Linked DNA regions of Homo sapiens. The protein of the gene in region 1 purifies or fractionates together with the protein of each later gene. This does not show direct contact. Each region holds a gene or a part of one and is shown on either strand. Other genes may lie near its edges.

Region 1 (3,653 bases):
GTGGGGTGAATGGGAGAAGGGACTGGTGAAATATTGGTCAAAGCATACACGATTTTAGTTAGGCAGGATGAATAAGTTCTGGGGATCTCATGAACAGCGTGGTGACTATAGTGAAAGTATAACTATTATATGCTTGAAATTTGTGAATACAGTATATTTTAAATGTCCTCACCACACACAAAAATATAGACTATATGAAGTGATGGATATGCTGATTAACTTGATTGTGGTAATCATTTCACAACGTACACATATATGAAAACATCATGGTGTATACCTTAAATATATACAATTTTTATTTGTCCATCATAACTCAATAAAGCTGGGAAAAAAAGACTAGGTGCATTTTGAGTAGGTAGAAAAGATATTTTTGGGTGAGGTACTGCCTGTCTTTAATGGCATGGAGACTGGACTGTGGAGAGTGTATTGAGGGACGGAGAGGGCCTGGCTGCTGTGGAGGATGTGTGCATGTCCATTGTGGGAGGTAAATGGAACAAGCGAGGTTAGGCTCAGATATAGATGGTTTTGCATGACTGGATTAGGAATTTGGACTTAATTCACAGGCACTGTAAATTCCTGAATGAGCAGTGGAGTGCTGAAGGAACAATTGAGGGAGGAAGGAGATTTGAATTGAGAGGCTAATTGGATAGTTATGTGTGTGGGAGGTAAGCTAGGTATTTAGGAATTGTGGCCCAACCTAGGTGAGTGAGAGGTGTGAGGAGGATAAATCAGGGACAGGAGAAACGTGATAGGATTTAATGGTTAATATTTACAGGTGTTGGTGTAGAAGAAAGAATTAAAGATTCCTACAAGGTTTTGTATTTGGGTAACTTGTTGAAATAAACATGTAACTCTTCTGGGCCTTTTAAAATAGAAGTTTCAGGCTTTTAAAGTTCGTTTGCTTTTGCATAATAATTAAATATTTAAATACCTTAGAGTAAGGCCTCCTTTCCTTTAATAGCATCTGTTTGAGAGTAGTGAGAAAGACTTGTAGACTCTTGTAGATCCCAGTTCTCCCCTTTTATATGGGCTTACATTGAGCAGCTGGAAATAGAGGTGGGAGGGGGGCCTACTTTAAAATATCATTGCTGTCTCTCAAGAGTTAACTTTATTTCTGCAGAGGAAAAATACCTTATTAGGAGTGATGGCCATGCCCAAAGAAATAAATCTCAGAATATTAGAGATAGAAGACATTTGGAAGCTAACCATATAAAAGATTTGAAAGAAAGCAAAACAGAGTTTAAGCTTATGATTGATTGTGTTTTGGAGACTTTCCAGTACCATCATGTATCTATAGATTAATGACTACATTGGTCGAGAGAATTTCTAAATGGCTGAGTCTTGATTTAAGTTTGAATTGAGTGCCTTTGGGAGACTTTAATTCATTTTTGTCCAACCACTCACTGAAAGCATTTGCTTAGAGCATTCAGAGATGGAATAGAGGGAATTTATGTTAACCAAATATAATTATTTCTTCTTTTACATCGCTTTCATTTGATTAATGGGGCAAGATTACTTTTCTAGTTGAAAGAAGATGTAAATAAGTATGAAATTATTTTGTTGCAGAATATGGCTCAAGCCTGGAAGATGACGTGGTGGGGGACACTTCAGGGTACTACCAGCGGATGTTGGTGGTTCTCCTTCAGGTATTGCGTGGAGATTAATTACAGTTTGATTAAAAAGCCTGAAGTTGGACTGGGCTGAATCTAGTTAAGTAAGGTCACTTAAAATTCTTTTAATAATTTGTGGTACTTGCTGATTCTTACTGCGATGATTCTGACTGTATGTTGCCTGTGCTTGTTTGTGTTTCAGAATATCTGGTCTAAATTCTTAACAGCTAACTCATACATGTTTTAGATAGTAGTATCTTGTTCCTTTCATAGAATGATAGCGGTATCTTGTTCTTTCATAGAATTTAAAATCAGTAGGGTCATTATTGGTTTTGGACAGTGCTGGGTGATGATAACGTGAAATAGTGCAGGATTGATCTTAATAAAAGCATATTATTCCTAGAGAAAGAGTGTTATTGAATAACCATCAGGTGGAACCATTTTTCCTTTTGAATGAGAATGCTCTATAGTTCAGTAATGTGACATATTACCTCTCATAGGCTAACAGAGACCCTGATGCTGGAATTGATGAAGCTCAAGTTGAACAAGATGCTCAGGTGAGTGACACCAGGATATGATGACTTTATTATGCTGTAGAAATGAAGAAATAATTCATGGTAATGAAAAATCACAATGTATGTTGTAATAGCTTCTAGTGATAATCTTGTTAATGGGTTATTTACATAGCATAAGACCTACATAAGTAGCTTTTTCTTATTCTGACCTGGTCAGCAAAATATTTTACCTTAAAGCTGAAACGAAATAAAATAAATTATATAGTGAGTTCCAACTAGACATGTTTTTTTTTGTGATTATTGAACATTCACAAAATAGAGAATTTTACCAAAAAACAGTGTTATTACTTCCACTGCCAATTATGCAGTGGGTCTCTTAGCAGGAGAAGATAAAGAAGAAAGAATAAAGTATTTAACAGTAAGTGGTGTTTAATTACATAAGAGATGACAAGTTATTTTGGTATTAGGAAATTTCTCTGCATTTCCTTCGACAGAATTTTAAGTAGGATTGGTCTTCTGTCAGCAGCTTTTTAGTGACTCCAAATGAAAATTTCCTCTTAAGTGACTTATAAACCCCTATAAAGTCTCAGTCTGGTTAATAAAACAGTTATTAAAATATAGGAAAGGAAATTTGAAACATGAGAGCTGAAAACTGGAAATTGGTAATAAAGGAATTACTTGGGTTCCTAGAACCACCAATCATAGACCTCTTTCTGGTCACATGTTTCAATTAAGAGAATATACAATTCTTGGTTGTTTGTCATGTATCATTGAAAAAGGAAGAGCCATATTCATTCCTCCAGTGGAACAACCCATGGATATGCGATCTCACTTTGCTAACAGGAAAGAGGAGAGCGGTTATTCTTTTGGGTAGGTTGATTTTATAATGGTTTCAGAATGCTGTCATCTCTGTCTAGCTGGAGAGAAAAAAAGAACTGAATGTTTACCGAGGGCTCTCTGTGCAGTATTTGACTCTTGCTTCACTCTGTCTTAGAAAATGCAAGCCAATTGTGTCCAGCCCCTTCAGACTCTGGTGGTTCCATTGCCCTCAGGATAAAGTCCGGGTTCCTGAATGGGTTACAAGCCCCTTTGTTATCTGTGTGTTGTTTACTTATGCCTCCAGCCTCTCTCACATGCTCTCTCTGCCCTCTTGCCCCTCCCACCCCGCTTCACCTGAGTCCTCTTCAAGAGTCAGTCTTCAGCTTAGATACTTTAGAGTTAGGTGCCCCTCACAGGGAAAACCATACCCCCCCCCGCCCCCAGGCTTCCTGTCACAGTTCTTGCCACGTTCTCTGGAAGCCATCTATTTACTTCACTGCCTTCCTGGGCCCCCTGAGCTGTCAGTTCAATTGTATCCTCAGCTTCTGGCATAGAGTAGGTGCTCAGTAAATAACTGATGAATGAATGAGCACATAACTCTACCAGAAAGGGGCAATTTCCCTTTTATGGATAAAGAAACAAACCCATGGCTTCCACTGAATAGCAGTGGAGTTGGAATTCCTAACGAGGCCTGTCTGACTCCAAAGCT
Region 2 (3,653 bases), on another chromosome or scaffold:
CCCAGCCTCACCATTTTTTTTTTTTTAAGAACTCAGGACATAGAGTGGATAGTGCCTTCTCCCAGCAATTCCTATGTCTGTGACCCAGTGCTAGAGCTACCTGTAAAACAGATCTTTGATTGTGCCAGGCTGTGCTTCTTCTAGGGGCTGGAAGAAGATGATTGTGAGACAGGTGTTAGAGGGAAGCCTGTGAAGATAGGTGGGAAATGAAAACAGCACAAATCTTGTGTAAAATAGATAAGCATCTCTTATTATTGGACAGTCTTTGTGGGAAGGTCTATGGCACATTGAAGATGTTAGTTAATATCAAATTGCTCATATTTTCTGCAAGGTGCCTTCCCTATTCCCAGATGAGGGTGCTATGTCCTCTTGCTAGACTAGGGCCTCAGGTCACATTTTGTGCACACGTCTCTCCAGGGCCTCAAGCTCAGCCAACACCTCTTTGGGCAGATCCTGGTTGACCTGCTCTGTCAGGTAGCTCCGAATGTCACGAACCTCCTGTTCCCAGAAGTCCTTGGGGAGGGAGAACAGCTGAGTGGTGTCTATAGCTCTGAGGCCGCTGAGATCCAAGGCTCCTTCCTTTGGCACCAGCCCAATGGGTGTCTCTCGGGCACTGTCCTCCCCCTCTAACCGCCGGCAGATCCAGTCTAGCACCCGAGCATTCTCCCCAAAGCCTGGCCACAGGAAGTGCCCTGCCTCGTCACGCCGGAACCAGTTGACATGGAAGATACGGGGCAGCTGGGCCCCCTTGCGCCCTTCCATGCTCAGCCAGTGTTCCAGGTAGTGCCCGAAGTTGTAGCCAAAAAAGGGCCGCATGGCAAATGGGTCGTGCATGATGATCTTCCCTGGGGGGGAAGCAAGATGGGTAAGGAATCTTCCTTCTCACTGGGGTAGGGAAGGGCACCCTGCATCCAGTTGGAGGAAGCTGTGAAAGGCTTATGGTTCTGAATATCTTCAGGGATGGGGAAAAGATAGAAGTGGGAAGAGGTGGGGCCATATCAGACTCCAGGGGTGGACAAAAGGAAGGTCTGGCTCAGGAAGGGAGAGAGGACGTGCTGTGTGCACACACAGGAGAGGGAGGAATGGTGAGGGTGCTCACCTTTGTGTTCTGCTGCAGCAGTGGACTCAGAGCGCATGGCGCTGCCCACAAACACCCCATGACGCCAGTTGAAGGCCTCGTATACCAGGGGTACCCCTAGATCACCAATGAACAGAGTCACAGGCAGCCCTTTTCTTTGGACCCTAACTCCAGCCCTTCTGGTGAGCTTGACTGGTACTCTCTCTCCTAAGACCTCGGCTATCCCATTTTCAGACCCTTTGCCTCCTCCCAAGTTTGCATTCACCAGGGGAGAACTCTGGAGAAAGGTGAGATCCAGGCTGAGGCTCTGGATCAGAGGGAGGGAGGTAGGCCCTAATACAGAGATAGCCCTTTTGCCAAGAACATGGAGCTCATATGTTGTTTACCTTTGGGTCTGCGGCCACCAAAGATGATGGCGTCAATGGGGACACCCTCTGGGGCCTCCCAGGCTGGGTCCATGATGGGGCACTGGCGAGCCGGGGCACAAAATCGAGAGTTGGGATGTGCACAGGGCTCCTTGTCACCTGGCAGAGGAAATACAAACACTATTATTTCCAAGGTCATGTCGACCCCCAACACACACATACATGGGCACACATTCTTGCAGGGTTCTTTTTTTTTTTTTGCCTCATCAGCTGCCTAGAACCTTGTGTGATAAGGAGCAGAGAGAGGGGAGCCAGGGCATCTCCAAGAGCTCAGGTTGTTTAGCCATGAAGGTGCGGCCAGCTGAGCTATGTGAGAAAAGAGTGGGAGAGGAATTGGGGTTTGGCAGGGCACTAATGTTTGTGCCAAGCTACTGGCACTTGGCACTGACCAGGGCTCAAGGGAATGGGGTTAGATATGGGCATAAGGTTATAATAATTTTTCCCCCAGAAACTATTTCATTATTTGTGAGATTATTATTTAAATGAATACCCAAACCTAAAGCAAAAACTGAGAATGTCAGCTTAGTACTTCAGACAATTGACTTTCCGTCAGCAAACCGGGGAAGACAGGTTCTCCTAAGTTATCCAAATGCAAATAGGAATTTATTTTATCTTTTTATTTTTGAGGCAGAGTCTTGCTCTGTTGCCCAGGCTGTAGTGCAGTGGTGCAATCTTGGCTTACTGCAACCTCCGCCTCCCAGGTTCAAACAATTCTCCTACCTCAGCCTCCCCAGTAGCTGGGATTACAGGCACCCACCACCATGCCTGGCTGATTTTTTTGTATTTTTAATAGAGATGGGGTTTCACCATGTTGGCCAGGCTGGTTTCAAACTCCTGACCTTAACTGATCTGCCCACCTTGGCCTCCCAAAGTAGTAGGATTACAGGCATGAGCCACTGCGCCTGGCCTGATTTTATTTACTTAATTAATTTAGTTATGAGACGGAGTCTCACTCTGTCACCAGGCTGGAGTGCAGTGGCATGATCTTGTCTCACTGCAACCTCTGCCTCCTGGGATCAAGCAATTTTCCTGCCTCCTGAGTAGCTGGGATTACAGGCATGAGCCACCATGCCTGGCTAATTTTTGTATTTTATTGGAGACGGGGTTTTGCCATGTTGCCAGGCTGGTCTCGAACTCCTGACCTCAGGTGATCCAACTGCCTCGGCCTCCCAAAGTGCTGGGATTACAGATGTGAGTCACTGTGCCCTGCAAGGAATTGATTTTAAAGCTAACAACATGTTGGTGATTTCCCTGCCCTGCTTAGACCCTGATGAAGTGATAGGGCTGGAAAAATAGAGATAGGGATATCACATGGGTAGGGATAACCTCAGGAGCCCAGGTCACACTTGGCACCTTCAGGTGTCCTGGAGGGGGGTTGGGACTAAGTCAGTGGCACATGTATGAAGCACCACTGTGTGGCCCCTGAGTGGACATGGTGCCTTCTCTGCTGGAGGTTGCTGGTCAGACCTGGGGAGTGGGGAAGCCACGGGGCCAAAATCCCCACCCTCTCCCATCCGCCAGCTTCTGCCCGCCATTGCAGATAAGAGCCATCCTTCTTCAGCACCCAGTGCAGAATCCTAACACAGGGTATTATTCTGGGAATTGAAGCTGGGGACAAGATGCCCTAGTTATGCCCCCAAATCTGGAGATGATGAAAGGGTTGGGGAACTAGCCTGTGGGGAAAGATGAAAGTTTCTTGGATTTCTCAGTTGGGTGGGAAGGCTGAGGGGGGCTTAATGATGGTGTTAGTAAAAATAAAGGGTGATTAGATGAAGCAAGGAGGGTGACTGCTAGGCCAGCCTGGCAAACCTGAATATAGGCTTCAGTGACTACAAGGCCAGCCTCCCCTCCCATGCTCTTCTTTGCCCCTGCCTCTTGGTGTCTGGACTGCCTGACTGCAGAAGGCCATGGAAAGAATACTGAAGGTCCAGAGTGCAGGGCTGAGGGAGAGGTGGGACTCCCAGGCGCCCAGGGTAATGACAGGATTCAGAAACTAGCTTCTGGGAAAGACTCAAGCACTGACCTGATTTTGTTTGTAGGAAGGATTGGGGTGAATGCTTTGGAGGGACAGGGGAAGGGTGACGGTAACAATACTGACCTTTAGACAGTGGTTATTATACAGGGGACAGTGGGAGCCAAGTGGCAGGAGG

What was found.
Region 2: the proteins of ANXA5 (region 1) and PCK2 fractionate together in Homo sapiens (co-fractionation; one large-scale study listed by BioGRID). This does not show direct contact.

Annotation. Positions count from the first base shown.
Region 1 is NC_000004.12:121,676,408-121,680,060, reverse strand, and holds part of ANXA5 (annexin A5), read left to right. Parts: exon of another isoform or gene 1-1,566; coding exon 1,567-1,646; intron 1,647-2,110; coding exon 2,111-2,167; intron 2,168-3,653. UniProt on the Homo sapiens protein: This protein is an anticoagulant protein that acts as an indirect inhibitor of the thromboplastin-specific complex, which is involved in the blood coagulation cascade.
Region 2 is NC_000014.9:24,100,702-24,104,354, reverse strand, and holds the end of PCK2 (phosphoenolpyruvate carboxykinase [GTP], mitochondrial isoform 1 precursor), read right to left. Parts: exon of another isoform or gene 3,602-3,653; intron 1,603-3,601; coding exon 1,465-1,602; intron 1,196-1,464; coding exon 1,100-1,195; intron 846-1,099; coding exon 391-845; 3' UTR 230-390; downstream 1-229. UniProt on the Homo sapiens protein: Mitochondrial phosphoenolpyruvate carboxykinase that catalyzes the conversion of oxaloacetate (OAA) to phosphoenolpyruvate (PEP), the rate-limiting step in the metabolic pathway that produces glucose from lactate and other precursors derived from the citric acid cycle.